Homo sapiens: one gene and its partner. The protein of the gene in region 1 interacts with the protein of each later gene in a pairwise test. Each region holds a gene or a part of one and is shown on either strand. Other genes may lie near its edges.

The links.
Region 2: the proteins of CALB1 (region 1) and BOD1 interact in binary tests that used the Homo sapiens proteins (3 or more experiments, as listed by UniProt).

The regions. Positions count from the first base shown.
Region 1 is NC_000008.11:90,065,534-90,073,087, forward strand, and holds part of CALB1 (calbindin), read right to left. Parts: intron 3,705-7,554; coding exon 3,621-3,704; intron 3,522-3,620; coding exon 3,465-3,521; intron 750-3,464; exon of another isoform or gene 506-749; intron 443-505; coding exon 365-442; intron 1-364. UniProt on the Homo sapiens protein: Buffers cytosolic calcium. May stimulate a membrane Ca(2+)-ATPase and a 3',5'-cyclic nucleotide phosphodiesterase.
Region 2 is NC_000005.10:173,606,339-173,613,892, forward strand, and holds the end of BOD1 (biorientation of chromosomes in cell division protein 1), read right to left. Parts: intron 6,918-7,554; coding exon 6,793-6,917; exon of another isoform or gene 6,789-6,792; intron 3,333-6,788; exon of another isoform or gene 3,240-3,332; intron 3,097-3,239; coding exon 2,901-3,096; 3' UTR 2,900-2,900; intron 1,955-2,899; coding exon of another isoform or gene 1,927-1,954; 3' UTR 807-1,926; downstream 1-806. UniProt on the Homo sapiens protein: Required for proper chromosome biorientation through the detection or correction of syntelic attachments in mitotic spindles.

The sequences.
Region 1 (7,554 bases):
TTTTTGGTGATATAATTTATATATATATAGTGTACCTTATATATGTGTAAGTTATATAATTTAGTGATATAATTACACTGGCTTTGGAAGCAAAACAAGTCATCTTTTGATAGATAAAAATTACACAGCTCTACAAGGAAGAAAATGCTCATATGTTGAGTCTTAAAGCCAATGCCTGCAGAACTCAAAATGACAAGATGTAAGCATCCCTAAGTATTTCACTTTTCAAATGAAATGATACCTATGTGCATATGATGCCCACACCACCGTTTATTTATTTCATCCTGTGTAGCCTTGGGAGTTAGCAAGAACATCATACTACTTCATGAGCTCTTGGGTACAATCTTTTCAAGATCAGTCTTACCATTAGGTCTGTATACTCGGCTAATTTTGTGTCATCAACAGTCTTGTTTGCTTTTTCTAGCAGGTCCTTTAGAAAGTTCTGTTAAAACAAAGAACACTTAGATTAATTTCATTAATAATATATCGTCTACTTTCATTTCAGAATGCCTTGGAACAGGACATACCAGGAATGCAAAGAAAGTCTCCTTTTGAGGGGTAGAAGCAGGTGAGTAGAGGAACTTATAATAGAAGAAAGACTAAACCAGGTTGTCCTCCTGGCATTCCAGCAATGAAACTACCTTTGACAGGAATAATACCTGCTTTTTACTGAGACTTGATTGATCATTGTCTGTGCATTACCATGACTTTATGATTTCAATTAACCTGAATAAAACCTTTTAAAACCAGCCAGCCCAATGGATGCATTTCTTCTTACTGATATCTTCACAAGTACTCATTGGATTGTTCTGCAAGAAACACAAGGGCCTTTATACCTTTGGAATATTGTGAAAAAATATCAGTAAACCAAATAGAGATCTATCCCTAATTTCAAATCCATTTTCTGCTCCCCAGGCTGTATTTACACATTAGTTTATAGCCAGCATGATGCTTATTTCTCCAGAGGGCCAGTTGGGTAGTTTTTAGCCTAATGCAGTCCAAAGCACTTTGGTTAAAATGCTTCCACTGACTATTTAAATTAACAAAATTGGCCACAGTTGATGTCATTGAATCTTTGAAAGATATATGAATCATATTAAAATAGAGATTAATGTGGGAAGGATGAAAAAAAGATGATTATTAACTTGACACCTGGAGCTTAGGAATGAATTTAAGTTTTTTTAACAGAAACATAAATAAAAGCTTTACAAAGATTTGCCATATAAGTGACAGTGTAAGCACTTTATAATAGTCATTCATTTTGTTTAGTGCTATTCATTCGTAACTCCTTTATTTTCTCAGAAAATGAATTAATGCAATTAGGAAAAACTAGGCAGATACTGTGCCCAGATATTATTGAAGGATTAGATTTCTTTGATTTAGCAATGACTTATCTCTCTCCTAAATGTTCCAGTTCTGGGCTGATTTGATGCCACTTTTTTAAAGGAAAGAGACTCTTTTCTTAGTTTGATAAAAATTTTTTACTTCAAATATTCCACTTCAAATCCAAAGTGAAGCATGGAAAATTCAAAGTTATCTGTTGGGGTTGAATTTTATTTTTGAGCCTTCTGGGGCTTTTGTCAGAGATTAATTGGGTTAAAAAGCCTCATCAGAGACTAAAATGGTGGTCACAAAAATAGCCTCGGAGAAACCTTGGGACGCAGAGATTCAAAGTCGTGTCTGAGAGCAAGTGATGTTTTACTCTATTATGGATCTTAAAATTAGCTTTCTTGAAAGATCCATTAAAAAAGAATGCCAACTTATCTTCAAAATTCCCCAGGGAAGAGGACTTCTATTTAGAATCTCTTTCTGAGAATAAAATTTAGAACAAAGAAGGAGGCTTTTAGAATATTTAGAGGTCAGTATTGGAAATGAGCTAAGGTTTTCATTATGAACTAAAAAGGATCTTTAAAAGAATATTTTTGGTCTAACTAATAAAATAAAAACACAGTGGCTTAACTGTCACCTTGTGGATTGCTGAGCTGCAAGTTTGTAAAATACACTGTTTTCAGTGACTTCACATTAAAAACGTTTACATTTTCAAGAGGATAAAATTGAGTATGTTTTAGCCATTTTGCCATGGCCCAAATGTCCCCGTTCCATCTTTAAAATTGTATGCTACTCAAACTATGTTGAATTATGACTAGAACTGTTGATATTCATATTTCCCCACATAGCAAAAGAGCAGCTCTTAATAAATGAAGTCTGAAAGCATGTAGTGCTGTGGGGGTGGGGTGGGGAATCATTCTTAGCATTATCAGATATTCTAGGTACAAATCCAGGTTCTCTTCCTAGGCAGCTGTGTAATCTTGAAAAATCATCAAATCTCTCTGCATTCCAATCTCACTGTTTTTATATTAGGAGTGATAATACCTGCCTTGCATATTTTCTGTGAGGATTAAATTTTAAAATACACTTCAAGCACCTTGTACTCTGCCTGACAGATAGTCAGTAAATATTAACTCACTTATATTTTAGTCACTCTATGTTCTAAAAATAGAAAAAGTAGGGTCTTTCAGATGGCGATGTTTTGGGGTCGGCTTGAGGAAATGAGAAGAATACTTCCATATTCCTGAAAGGCTAGTAAATTGAGTTCATGAATAATATAATTTATTTTATGTTGCATGTCACAAAAGCTTTCATGTGCAGAATCTTACTGGAGCTTCACAATAAGCCTGAGAGGAAGGATTTATTACACTCATTTTAAAGATTAAAGAAAATTGGAAAGATATAGTAATTAATGAGTTAAGACTTGATTTCAGATCTCTGCCTTTTCCTTTATATCCTCCTCTGTGATATCCGAAGTGATAAATTCATTCTCTAAGTTGCAGTTTTTCAAAAGTTTAATTTTAGAAGATTTTTTATTTTTTATCATCATTGCTGAGAGTCAGTAGGTTGTGTAGAATGTCTACAGGCCTTGGAGGCAGACAAGCCTGGATTTGCACATCAAGGCTCTGTCCGATTTCTGTGTGGCCTTCAGTATATCATTTAACTTCTCTCAACTCTTCCTCAATGGGGTAATACAATGTCATACAACTTACGCAAAGATTAAATAAGGCATTATGTGTAAAGTAGTTGGCATACAGTAGCTATTCAGTAACTTTTTCTTCTTTCTTTTGTAAGAAAATTTATATATATATGTGTTTATTTTGAGAACTAAAACTACAAATTTCAATAAAAGAATGGCTTATTCGGCTTATCTATAATTCTATCTGTCTGTCTGTCTTATATTTGTGTACACCACAAAAAATGTTAATTTTTTGCATTACTGTACAGAATTTCCAGAAGCAATTGAAGATGCTTTTTTGATCTGGTACTTCATTAACAATGTCGAAGAGTAGGTGAAAATGTGACACTGTTCAACATTAGTTTCTTTTGTGGGAGGTTTTTTAAAAAGCTAGGAAACTCTTAGTTCATAATTGCATCTGAAAGGAAAAACTTAGTACAAGTTTTTATTTGCTTACCTTAAGCTCCTCAGTTTCTATGAAGCCACTGTGGTCAGTATCATATTTTCTCCATGTCTGTAAGTAATTTTGGATAAGGAAAACAAACACATTTTTAATAAAAGGAACAATTTTCCTACTTTAAGCAGCTTTCTTAAAGGGGCAGCTTTCTTATACCTTCATGAATTCCTCACAGGACTTCAGCTGCTGGCATCGGAAGAGCAGCAGGAAATTCTCTTCTGTGGGTAATACGTGAGCCAACTGGAAAAGATTTAAGAAGAGAGAAACGTGTTGTAAGTTGCTCAAAAACAAGTCTCTGCCATTACCTGCTGCTTAGTTTTTCTTCAACGTGTTCCCTCACAGGCTAGAAAAGTAGGAGAGGAAAAACATTAGAGTCGGCTTTCCCTTTCTGGTACTTTCCTATGGAGCGCTGTCGATTCTCCAACGCTCGTGTGCCCTTGTGTGCTTGGTTCTTTGGCCAGTGAGGTGGCCGCAGCAGACCTGTGCTCAGGTAGAACTAGCGTGGCCACTTCTTGTCTGCTGGACATTCAGGCAGATTCATCCTCGTGGCTTGAACCCTTCAAGTGTTCTATGCCACAGATTAGTGTTCTATGCCTCTCTCCTCTCTCCTCACAGGGTCACAGAAAGGCACATGTGGGGGCCATAAATTTCATGTGAAGTGAAAGAAACCATGAGGAACATAAATGTTGGGGAGGGGAGTGAAGGGGGAAAATGTATTCCCAAGCCCGAGGAGAAAGCCTACCATGAGATACAAGAGAAGATAAACCAAAGACAATCGTAAGGCAATGGAAAAGAAATTCACCATGAATGGTGGGGCGTTAAACAGGAATAGGAAAAGCCAGTTCTCAAATTGTTGCTTTCTGCTGAAAGGACATCCACTGCTTGAATCCAGGGCTGGGGTTTATTTTCTGATCTCCACGGCATGCCTCTATGACATTTTCCCTTAGATCTCATTTCAAAACTTCAATCCTCCTCTCTTTTTTTTTTTTTTGGAAGAAAAAAGGATTCCATATCCCATTTTATGACTAATCTATTGCGTACAGAGAAGGAAGGAGCTGGATTGATGGCTCCACTACAGATGTGAGATCTATTTCTGGCACAGTAGCTAATTAGCTGTGGTCCCCAGCAACCCCGAGCCATTTCTGGACTTCAGTACCCTCATCACTAAAACAAGGACTTGAAATAGAAGCCAGTGTTTCTTGAATATATTGGGTTCAAAACGCCTTCTGTTGGAAGCACTGCATTTTCACCATTAAATAATGAATCTACACACACTATATTTCATCTAATTTCCAGGATTTGATGAATTCCCTAGATCACGGGCATGGACGGACCCTCATCCGTGGATTTTAGGCCAACAGCCTGTAGTCTAGATCAGCCTTAAAGTCAGAGTCAGTTCTAAAAGTTCTACCAAGTTATAGAAAATACTATCATAACTTTTTTTAAAAAATTCATCCTTTTAGGTTCATTTAAAAATTTAATATTTAATATAAAATGCACTATTCTACTTTATATGCAAGGAATCTAATTTTTCTTATGCCTGTGTATGCCCTTTAGCTTATCTTATGTTTAGATTTTTGAAATAATATTTCAAATTAAAACCACTCGATTTATACGCACCACACATGTGGGTGAGACTAAGGGAAAGGGCCAAACCTTATGTCAACATGTTTAATATGACCTAGTTATAAAACATTTTCTTATTTATTTTTAAAGAAAGGTCACTAGTGTGGGTAGATGATAATATATCTAAAAAGTAAAAATGGGGGTTTATAATGTGCCAGTGCTTTTAAAAAAATGTAATTAGCTTTTGGTACATAAACACATTTGCATCATTGCAGTGTGTGTGTGTGTGTGTGTGTGTGTGTGTGTGTGTGTGTGTGTGTTATCCAGGTCCCTTATTAAACTCAGGACATACTTCTGTGACCTTTGCATTCTTTCAATTCCTTTGAATACTTGAATCATAAAATTCTATACCTCAGAAATAACATAATTTAATTTAATTCAAGACCAAATTTTTCAATTGAGGATGCTAAGGCCCAAAGAGGTTGAATGATGACCTGATGATTGGCAGACTGAAAATCACTTTAATTTGGTGATTATTAGTAGATTAAGTCAACAACATGCTTGTTGAAGACAGTAATAGAGTGGTTTGGTTGCTTCTTTGCTCTTGGACTGCAAATAATGAATTTGTTGGTGATTTTTACACGTGACAATGAGATAGTTTAAATATGATAAGCTGTTTCTACTCATTGAAATCTAGAACACCATTTTCCTTATAAAAATCCCTTTTTTTTCCTCATCTGTAAGTGGGCTCCTAGTGGAAAGTAGCTATAAATGATTTTCATTATAAAGTATCCAGATATCTGGTAAGTTAGGCCTAGAATGTAGGTCTCCCCCCAGAGCTAAGGGGGAAGAGGAGAAGGGAGGGAGAATGGCAGTGGGTGGGCTCGGCATGGAGAGGGGCTCTGGAGGACGGAGAGCCACACCCCTCCAGTCTTGTTGAGCCTGGCCTCTTCTATAATAATACTTTCCTGGAGGGATTCTGAAGAATATCTCCTTGAGGATTTTAAAGAAGATGGGAAGAGAAGAAAAAGTAACACAAGAAAGAAGAGGGAACAAAGATGGAAGACAATAAAACACATCAAAGAGAAGAAAATATATCAGAGGCAGACATTTTGAGGGAAAGATTGAACAATGGAAATGGATGTTATGTATACATTTTGGAGGGTTCTGCATGATATAGAAGGTCTAGCCACATTTTATTATGTTTTTTTCATGAATATAAGTGTTCATTTAGGAAACAGGAAATAGCTAACCCCAACTCGTCCTTTATTTATTAGTATGCAACTTGTTAGATACTTCTTACAATTTTTGCGTGACCTTCCTCTAGACCATTAATTTCAAGAGGGCAGGGAATAATACTTTTCTGCATCCCCTGAATGCCCAGCATGGTATCTAGCATGTTATATGCCTGAAATAAATGCTTGCGGATTGGTTGGTAATTTTACTTTATTAAAAACATCTACTTAAAAGAATTGAGTTATTTTTTGCTTATCTTCATCATAATTCTCTATTTTGTTTGGATTTTTATAATTAGTGTGTGTTGCTTTGAACAAAAAAGAATAATTTTTCTTTAAATATTTTACATCTCCAAATTCACTGAATACATAAAAACAGAAAAAAACAAATGAATGAACTAGTAAGCAATCACTAAATGTAAAATTAGGGAAATTGCCATCTTTGTTTCAACATAAAAGTTCATGTAACTCACATAAAGTTGAGAGGTCTCCTGAATGTCAGATACAGAGATAGTAAAAATGCTCTTCATGTCTACTATAAATGTGTATTTCTTGCCCATACTGCTTTGGTTTTATACTTAAATTATTAAAAAATACAGATTACATCAATGTGCAACATATTCAATCTGTTTTAATTTCACTGAACCATTAATGTTACACTCAACATGATACCATCCTATTTTATAAATGTTAGAAAGGAGTCTTAAGCATATAAAAATTATTATGTGTATATAGGATGTGGCTATAGTGAATGTAAAGAAATCTTTCTTAAGATATGTTTCACAATGTGGTGGTCCTGTGTTGTCTCTCGGTTCTTCTCTCAATGCGTATGAATCAATATTCAAGTTTCAGAGCTGGGCACAGTAATTCTCCAGCTGTAGCCTTTATGACTATGTCTATAATGTGCCAAAGGTCTTTCATATAGGAGGTGTTAAGTAGAGTTGCTTTATTCTCAGATATGCTAAGTCACTGCTGTTTATAGAAGTATCCAATACTTCTTATTACAATATTATTGGTGATTCTGTAATCTTTGGGCTGCCTGCCTGCTCTTTTATGAACTCCCAAAACTTTTTTATGAGTTGGAAAAGAGAGTGAAGAATATCAAGGGGATGAGTGGAAGGCAGGTAGCTAAGGAAATAAGTAGAATCCCTCAGAGCTTCATTTCTGAGAACTGATTGCTTGTTATCAAGAGTAGGAAAAAAAACCAACAACTTCCTACTTGCTTGTCTCCCCTACTAGTCTACGTGCTCCTTGAGGATGGGGTCTGTGTCTTATTTACTGTTTTGTGG
Region 2 (7,554 bases), on another chromosome or scaffold:
AATAGAAACTCTTTGGTATGTGGCACATTTAACATTCTGTGAAAATTCGGGTGTTTCTCATCAACTGGTCCAGCCATCTCTAGTAAAAGCAGCAGCAAAGTAAGAGAACTGAGATGAACCAAAAACTGTCTGCCAAAAACATATATAAAATGCAGTTAATTGAGCATTTGGGGGCAGAAAGGGTGAAGCCTTCTCTGGGCTTTTGCCCTTTGTTGCTAGTTGAGGTCAGTGCGGGATAGGCAAGATGTTGGGAGGGTCAACACAAAGTAGTTGTGTGGAGATCTCCCTCCCAGAAGGATGCCTCACAGGGAAGGAACTTCCCATTAAAGCTATGTGGTCCTGAAGAGGAGACACTCCAGTTAGTCTGAGCAGCTTTTCTGCAAGCACAGGACTGGTTAATTCTGGCCACTCCCTGTCTGCCTAGTAGTAGAGAGGAGTGGAGGGTCCATTTTCTGGGGTTAAGAACTTTGTTGACTCCTGCAACTGTAAGGCAGCTTGAAATGGAACTGCACCTACCAGGTGGGAACAGACCACACGTCAGATATAACTGGCACCTGCCTTAAACGTGTGGCCAGTTTGCTTTAAAATTAGGGCACATGCTACCAAGCATCTTGCTGAATATGGCACTGCAGTGCTCATACAGGGGTATTCATGGTAAAGGTGGAAGTGGAGCCTTTGTCTTAACAGGGAACCAACTGAATTGGTTAAAATTTTGATCAGATTAGCAGCAATATGCAGTAGTAGACTCAACCAAGAACCACAGACTTAGTTAGACATAATCTTGGATATATTATCCAAGGCTTATTATACAGAGTATGTTCAGAGGCCTGGCAGCATCAGCATCACCTGGCAGCTTGTCAGAAACACTCACTCTTAGGTCCCACCCCAGAACTTCTTAATCAGAAATATGCATTTTCCCTTAAATCCCCAGGTGCTACTTCTGCACACACAAGGATGACAAACACTGACACATACCACGGACTACCTCAACTAAAGACCAGTGTCAGTAATGGCTCAGGGAGGAGAGAAACAGCCCACTACTAGCTACACCTACTAGTTTCATAGTTCCAAGTTATATGTACCAATCTTCACTGCCAGTAGATCATGTGTGGTGCACAGAGGCAGAAGACAAAGGTTGCCCTTCACAGACCTGAGGTTTAAGCTTCAGCTGAAGCTTCGGAGTAAAAGTATCAAATAATTTTATTATGAAAGATAAGCCATTTATTGACCATTCACTTTTCTAAAAAAACACAAATGTGAGAATAAAATAAACATACCTAAGACTCACTGGCCCCTCCAGGACAGGAAGCAGCCCTGGACAGAGAGCCTGCAAACGAGTTTCCTTATGCCTAATGTCTGAACTTCTCATACATTCTAGGATTTCATGTTTCGTTACAAAGGAAAGGAAACTGGCTAGAAGATTCATGTACAAGAAGGTCACAACTTTAAAGCTATCTGACGCTAATGACTTGTACAATCTGGTTTGCAAACTCTGAGAGACAGTATCAAATAAGCACTGTCAAAGACTACTCCCAGCTAATCTTTACTGTCATTTTTCTTTGAAATTGTCTTTGGGACTGGCTATGTTCTCACTGTAGCTTCCGTTTATCCCACAGCACAAACCCTAAAGTCCATGTGCAGTCTCCATGTTCAAGTATAAAAGTCTGTTTCAGGACAACCCTGGGTTGCTGTAGTGTTTCTCTCTCTGTAGTGTCTACTTGGTGTCATGCCCTTGGACAGGCTGGCCAAATGGCAGCACAATGCAGGGGGTGACACGGTCAACTCTCCCACTGCCGAACTTGCTCCCCTTTCAATCTGGTCACTGCCCATGGTCAAGGTTGAAATCTTGAGATCAGTGACGACCTTGGCCTATCTTCAGTCTGAAGTTGCACTCTTATGTAACCGAATCCATTTCTTCACCAAAAATTAGCTTTCAAAAGGTGTCTGGCGTATTCTAAAAAGGAAAGATAATCATATCAAAATGTTATTTATTGATAACAGACTATATTCACTTTTATGTTCCTAAAGGAATTTACAATTAAAAAGAAAGACTTAAAATGAATGTTTTACACTCCATATTGGACTCAAGGGCTTCTCTCAATAGAGGAACAAAAAGACAGTCCTGATGCTCTTGCGTTGCTCATCACTGACACTCAAAACGCCCTAGTCAATTCACCTCACTTACTGATTATAACAGGCATCTCAGAGAATCTTAAAAAGAACACCAAATCAGAATGAAGGGATAAAACATATCCCAGCAGTCACCAACAACGGCGAAAAGTCCACTGCTAACTTCATCGCTGCTCCTACTAATGTCTCCCAAAACCTGCAAAAAGCATTCTTTTGTACATCTACAGCTGTTTAAAATTACATTTAATTCCAAATTTAATTTAAAAAGGGGGAGTGTTCCTAACAGAAGAATCCCATGGTAATTGATAGTGGTAAACAAACTCCTTCTAAATTCATGGAAATCGAGTCGCACTCAAAGCAGACTCTGAATCCCATTTAGGATATCACTTCAGAAGGCACTGCTTGATTTTAAATAAAATTGCAAGCCTAAGTTAACTCATGTCCAGGAGAGACTCATTTAAACATTTCAGCAAAATAAGACTTTCATTTGAATCCCCTTTATGCACACCAATCATCCCAGCTGATTTCTAATGAAGCATCTATCCATAGCTTACATGTTTAGCGCTGGTGGAACAGAAAATCAGTCACTGACACAGGAAACTGCTACTAATTAGTTCTCAGTAAAAAGTGACTTATAACAGTAGGTGAAGTCCATCTGCAGTAAATACTTCCTGAATGATCCTCAATTACGGCCTACCCCATTCCTATCCATTTTACATATCTACAAGCCAGAGATGCATACTCCTGGACAGAAGATAGGATACTGGACCTTAGGAAGTGTCCTGAGATGGAGCTGGAGGGTCCTGGCCTTCGGGCTCTGGAGGGGGTGCTGGCACAGCTGCTTTTTTCTGGGCCGCCAGGAACTCATGAATTGCTCGTTCTATTTGTGGCCTGAAGATGTGGTTAAGTTTTGGATCCACCACCTGAGAAATAATCCTGTCTACTCCAGCTTCCAACATCCCTGACCTTGTGGAGACAAACAGATCATTCTGTTATTTAGTTCCTTCGGGATTCATCTTTAGCCCCAATAAGTGTCACGTGCGAGCCCAATAAATGTCCACCTTCAAAGCTACAGCCCTTCTAGGGAGTTTAGAGGTCAATCCACTTACCATATACAGCTCACGCTATTTTCACTTTTGAGGGGTAATTCTCAACCAGCAGCTGTTATTCCTACTGCACAATCTCACCCACAATCACCCAACCTTGTACAAAAGAATCAAAAACAAAACTAAGTGAGTTGCTCCAAAACAACAAACAAATGACAGCATGGTGAGAAAGAGTTTGACACGTGTGGCACTGAAAAGCTTCCTCGTACTGTCAAAGCCAGTAAGCCCCGAATTGGACTCCATTTCCTTCAACATTTATTCTCCTAATAGCCTAAGCAGAAGTAGCTCCAGCAGCAACCTGTTTACTAATCCTTAAAATTTAAACAAGGCCGATCAGTCAGGGCTGGGAGTATTTACATCACCAGCAATTCACCATGGCCTTCAGCTGTAGTTGCTACCTGTAACACATAATAAGCAACTTGGAAGCAAACAAGAAATAGACAAACAAATTAGTTCCAAGCTCCTAGAGGGCTAAATTACATCCCCGATCCTTTCTGAAGTAGAGCAAAAATCAGGGCATATCAATGTCTATATTCAAACACTTGGGACAGGGTACTGGAAATGATGGTGAGAGGAAACAAATCATATTTGGACAGTCTGGAAAATAGCCCGTAAGGTTCAAAGTGAAGTGTTCTTCTCAAAGGACTGAAATATTCCAATACCATCACAAGCATGTGGGCAGGTTTTACTTATTTTCCCGTAGACTTGAGACTTCAGAGGCCATTTAAGCCTTCGGGTAAAAATAGGCTGGGCAGCAAGTGGGCAAATGGTCTGTCAGGGTACAGCAAAGGAAAGACATGAGTAAATGTACATCATGACAAAGAAGATAAGAAACAGGCTGTGAACTGGGAAAGATGATTAGTGTGTAAAGTGCTCCCTGGATTCAATGGTAACTAACAGCTTATCGACAGGAAGCCTAGATGTAAATACACCACCACTAGAGCACTGAAGGGCACATTTTCAGGTAGACCAGGCATTAGACAGTATCGGCCCTTAGTGATGAGCATCGTTAAATACAGCAAAGTTAGCATCCGGCTATGGGATGCTAACAAAGGAAAGCCACCTCTCCTCAGTCACAAGCCAATACCTTTCCAACTTTACCAAACCACTTCCTGAGTCGGATTCACAGGGTCCTTTACCAGATGTAAAAGCTTGATATTATCAACTAAATGCCTGTGTCCCCCAGACTTCCTATGTTGAAATCTAATCCTTAATGTGATGGCCTTTGGAGGTAGGGCCTTTGGGAGGCGATCGGGTCATGGGGGCAGAGCCTCCGCGAATGCAATTTATGCCCTTACAAAAGGGACCCCAGGAAGTTAGCGAGCTCTCTTTCCACCACATGAGAAGAACAAGCAGTTGGCAGTCTGCTGCCTGCAAGAAGGCCTTCCCCTGAACCTGACCATGCTGGCATCTTGGTCTTGGACTTCTAGCCTCCAGAATGGTGAGAAGTAAATTTCCATTGTTTACAAGCCACCTAGTCTACGGCGCCTTGTTAAAGCATCCCCAACTGACCAAAACCCCTGATCAGGGGAAACAAACTACCAAGGGAGTGCAGCTCACTTTCCTGGAGATTCTTAAACTTTTGAGGAAAACATAAAATCTTGTCAGGAGCCCAATGTACAAGATGGAAAAAACAAATATTGTACAGTTACAAGAGTTATTCGTCATAATTCAGTGCAATAGCACAGGCTAATTTCCTGTTAAACCCTCTAGGCTGTGGCACTGGGTTACAGCATCTGGGCCAGAACAGCCAGGCCAGTGAGCCAATGCTCTGAAGGCCTGCAGTGTCCACCTGGGGAGAGCACCTGGGGGCAAGCAGAAAGTCTGCGTTTCGAAACTCCAGTAGATTTTGCCTCAAATTCAAAATGCTAGCAAGAATTGTGGAGAAATGTCCCAGTATTAAAGCCAAGTTCATGTTTTCAGGTTAAACACATTCTAAGTCAAATCAAAAAGCAGGGAAAAAAAAAAAAACAACAACTTCACAGAGGTGGTAAAAACTATGCAGAGAGGAAATGATTAGTATAAAAGTCAGGAATATGGAAAACTTCCGAAAGGAGGAAAGTACATCCGGAGCTAGGCTGTTTCGGGGGTGTGAGTCCATTTCTCGATCTGGGTGATCAAGGGATGTTCTAATTATCTGTTTCACTGAACTTCTGTGCACTTTTCCGTATTACAATTCCTACTAAAGAAATGCAAGAGGAAGCGCCACATGCATACCTCTAGAATGACATCCATGCTCATTACAGAAATCAAAGCAATGTTAACAGCCTTCATACAATCATGGCAACTTTCCAAATATTTCAGAATGTTCAGTGTTTTGATTTACTCAAGACAGGGTAAACACAAGTGACTTTAGCTGTGAAACAGGCTTTTCATGAGGATGAGTGATATATGTAAAGACCAGTGCCAGACATGTAATAAAGAGTTGCTCAGTAAGGGGCAGCTACTGTCCCCTTCTTTCTGAAAGAGCCCGGTGCCACCAGTCTGTTCTCTGGAGAAAGGGAAAGGCACTCGGTACTGACTCCAGAATGACAAGGCACTGGGCATCTTCTGCTATCAGGCTTCTTCCCAGCATTCAGCCATATTGGAAGTACTAGCTTGTTAGTAAAACACTTTTAAAAACTTTAGAAATCTTAAAATCGCTGCATATTCACAGGAAGTTGTGAAGAAGAGTCCAGGGAGTTCCACACGCACCCTTCACCCAGCCAGCTCTAATGTCAGCACCTTGCGTAACTAGTGCAATATCAAAACCAGGAAAATGACACTGGTCCAATCCAGACCTTATTTAGACTTCAGTTACACTTGCACTTATTTGTGTGTGTAGCTCCGTGCGACTTTACCATACGAGCTGTTGCACGTGAGCACAGCACAATTCAGTGACACTTAACTGCACCATTGCAAGCTCCCCCTTGTGCTACCACTTGCAAGTCACACTCACCCCCTCCTCCCATCCGTAACCCCAGGCAATCACTAATGTGTTCTCCCATTTCTGTACCCTCCTCCACCTCCACTTTTGTGCGTCACTCAGATAAGCTATCAATAGCACCTTTATTAACTAAGGTTCAGTTTGTTACTGTGAAGTACGATACTTTATTAAGACTATGCCTTCCTGAAAGCTGTCACCATTACACTTTAGAGGTGGCAGTCCTGGTGGACTCAAAGAATTTATTTAGTTCACATTCACCTGTGAGAATAAAGATCCAACTCCTCTTGCCCAAGATCCAAACCCTGATATCTTGGTATAAAACTCACATATATGTTTGGACAACACTGAAACTTCAAAGAGCAGGGAAAATGTCTCACGATTTGGAATGCCTTTTGATGCACCCAGTAGAGATGCACACAGGAGGCCTTCACAGGCTGCAGAAACTGGAATTTCAACTGAGTACTTTGCTTCCTTTAACCTTAATTATAACAAAAGAGCAGACTGCTGCAACTCCTAAGTGATACTTGATATAAAGTCCCATCAACCTTGACTAAACAGAGACCTCAACCTTCTTGTGCATCACACTTGTGATGACTGCCTTTTCAAAAGCTTTAAATTCTGCTTACTTACTGAACCACACTCTGCCTCAGACCATTTCGCAACTGGTTTTTGTTCATCGTAGGATTCCATTCCTGCTTGTCCAGATGTGTTGACACAAAATTATCCACTTTCTGCCTCAGGTTTTGGTAAGCTGGCTAAAATGTTAAAAAGAGGAGGCAAGGTCAGAAGTTATATGCACCAAAGTTTTGAACTTAGTCTCTCAGAACACTGCTTTTCACAGAAACGTTATTAAGTCTAAATACACTTCCACTGTGCATGAAGATCACCATGCAATGTGGCAGTCAGGAATTAATGGTTAACACAAGTGCCCACCTGATGGTGGGTGGGCACAATGCCAGGCGCTTTACTTATATTATTCCATTTGCTTTTAAGTAACTCTACATGCAGCAGGCCTGACATCAACCCACAGCCTGGACCCACACCTGGGCAGCCTGCAGCCAAGCCACCAGCTGAAGCCTTCCTAGCTCAGCTGAACTTTGGTAGACCTGCCGCCCCATGAACATGTGAACAAGTGCTGGTTATAAGCTGCTGAGATTCAGTTTGCTATGCAGCATTACTGCGGCAAAGTTTGCTAACAGTCAGGGAAATGAAGTTGACAAAGGAACCAGCAGGCCTCAATTCCATGACTGGCCTCTTCCAAAAGGTTGAGAGAGCAAACTCAAAGACTCCACTAAACCTGGAAAAGAGAAAGGCAAGGAAATGGGGGCAGAGGAGTAAAATTCACAGATACCATGTGCTATCTGCCTAGTAACGCCTTCTTTCTAGTAACTG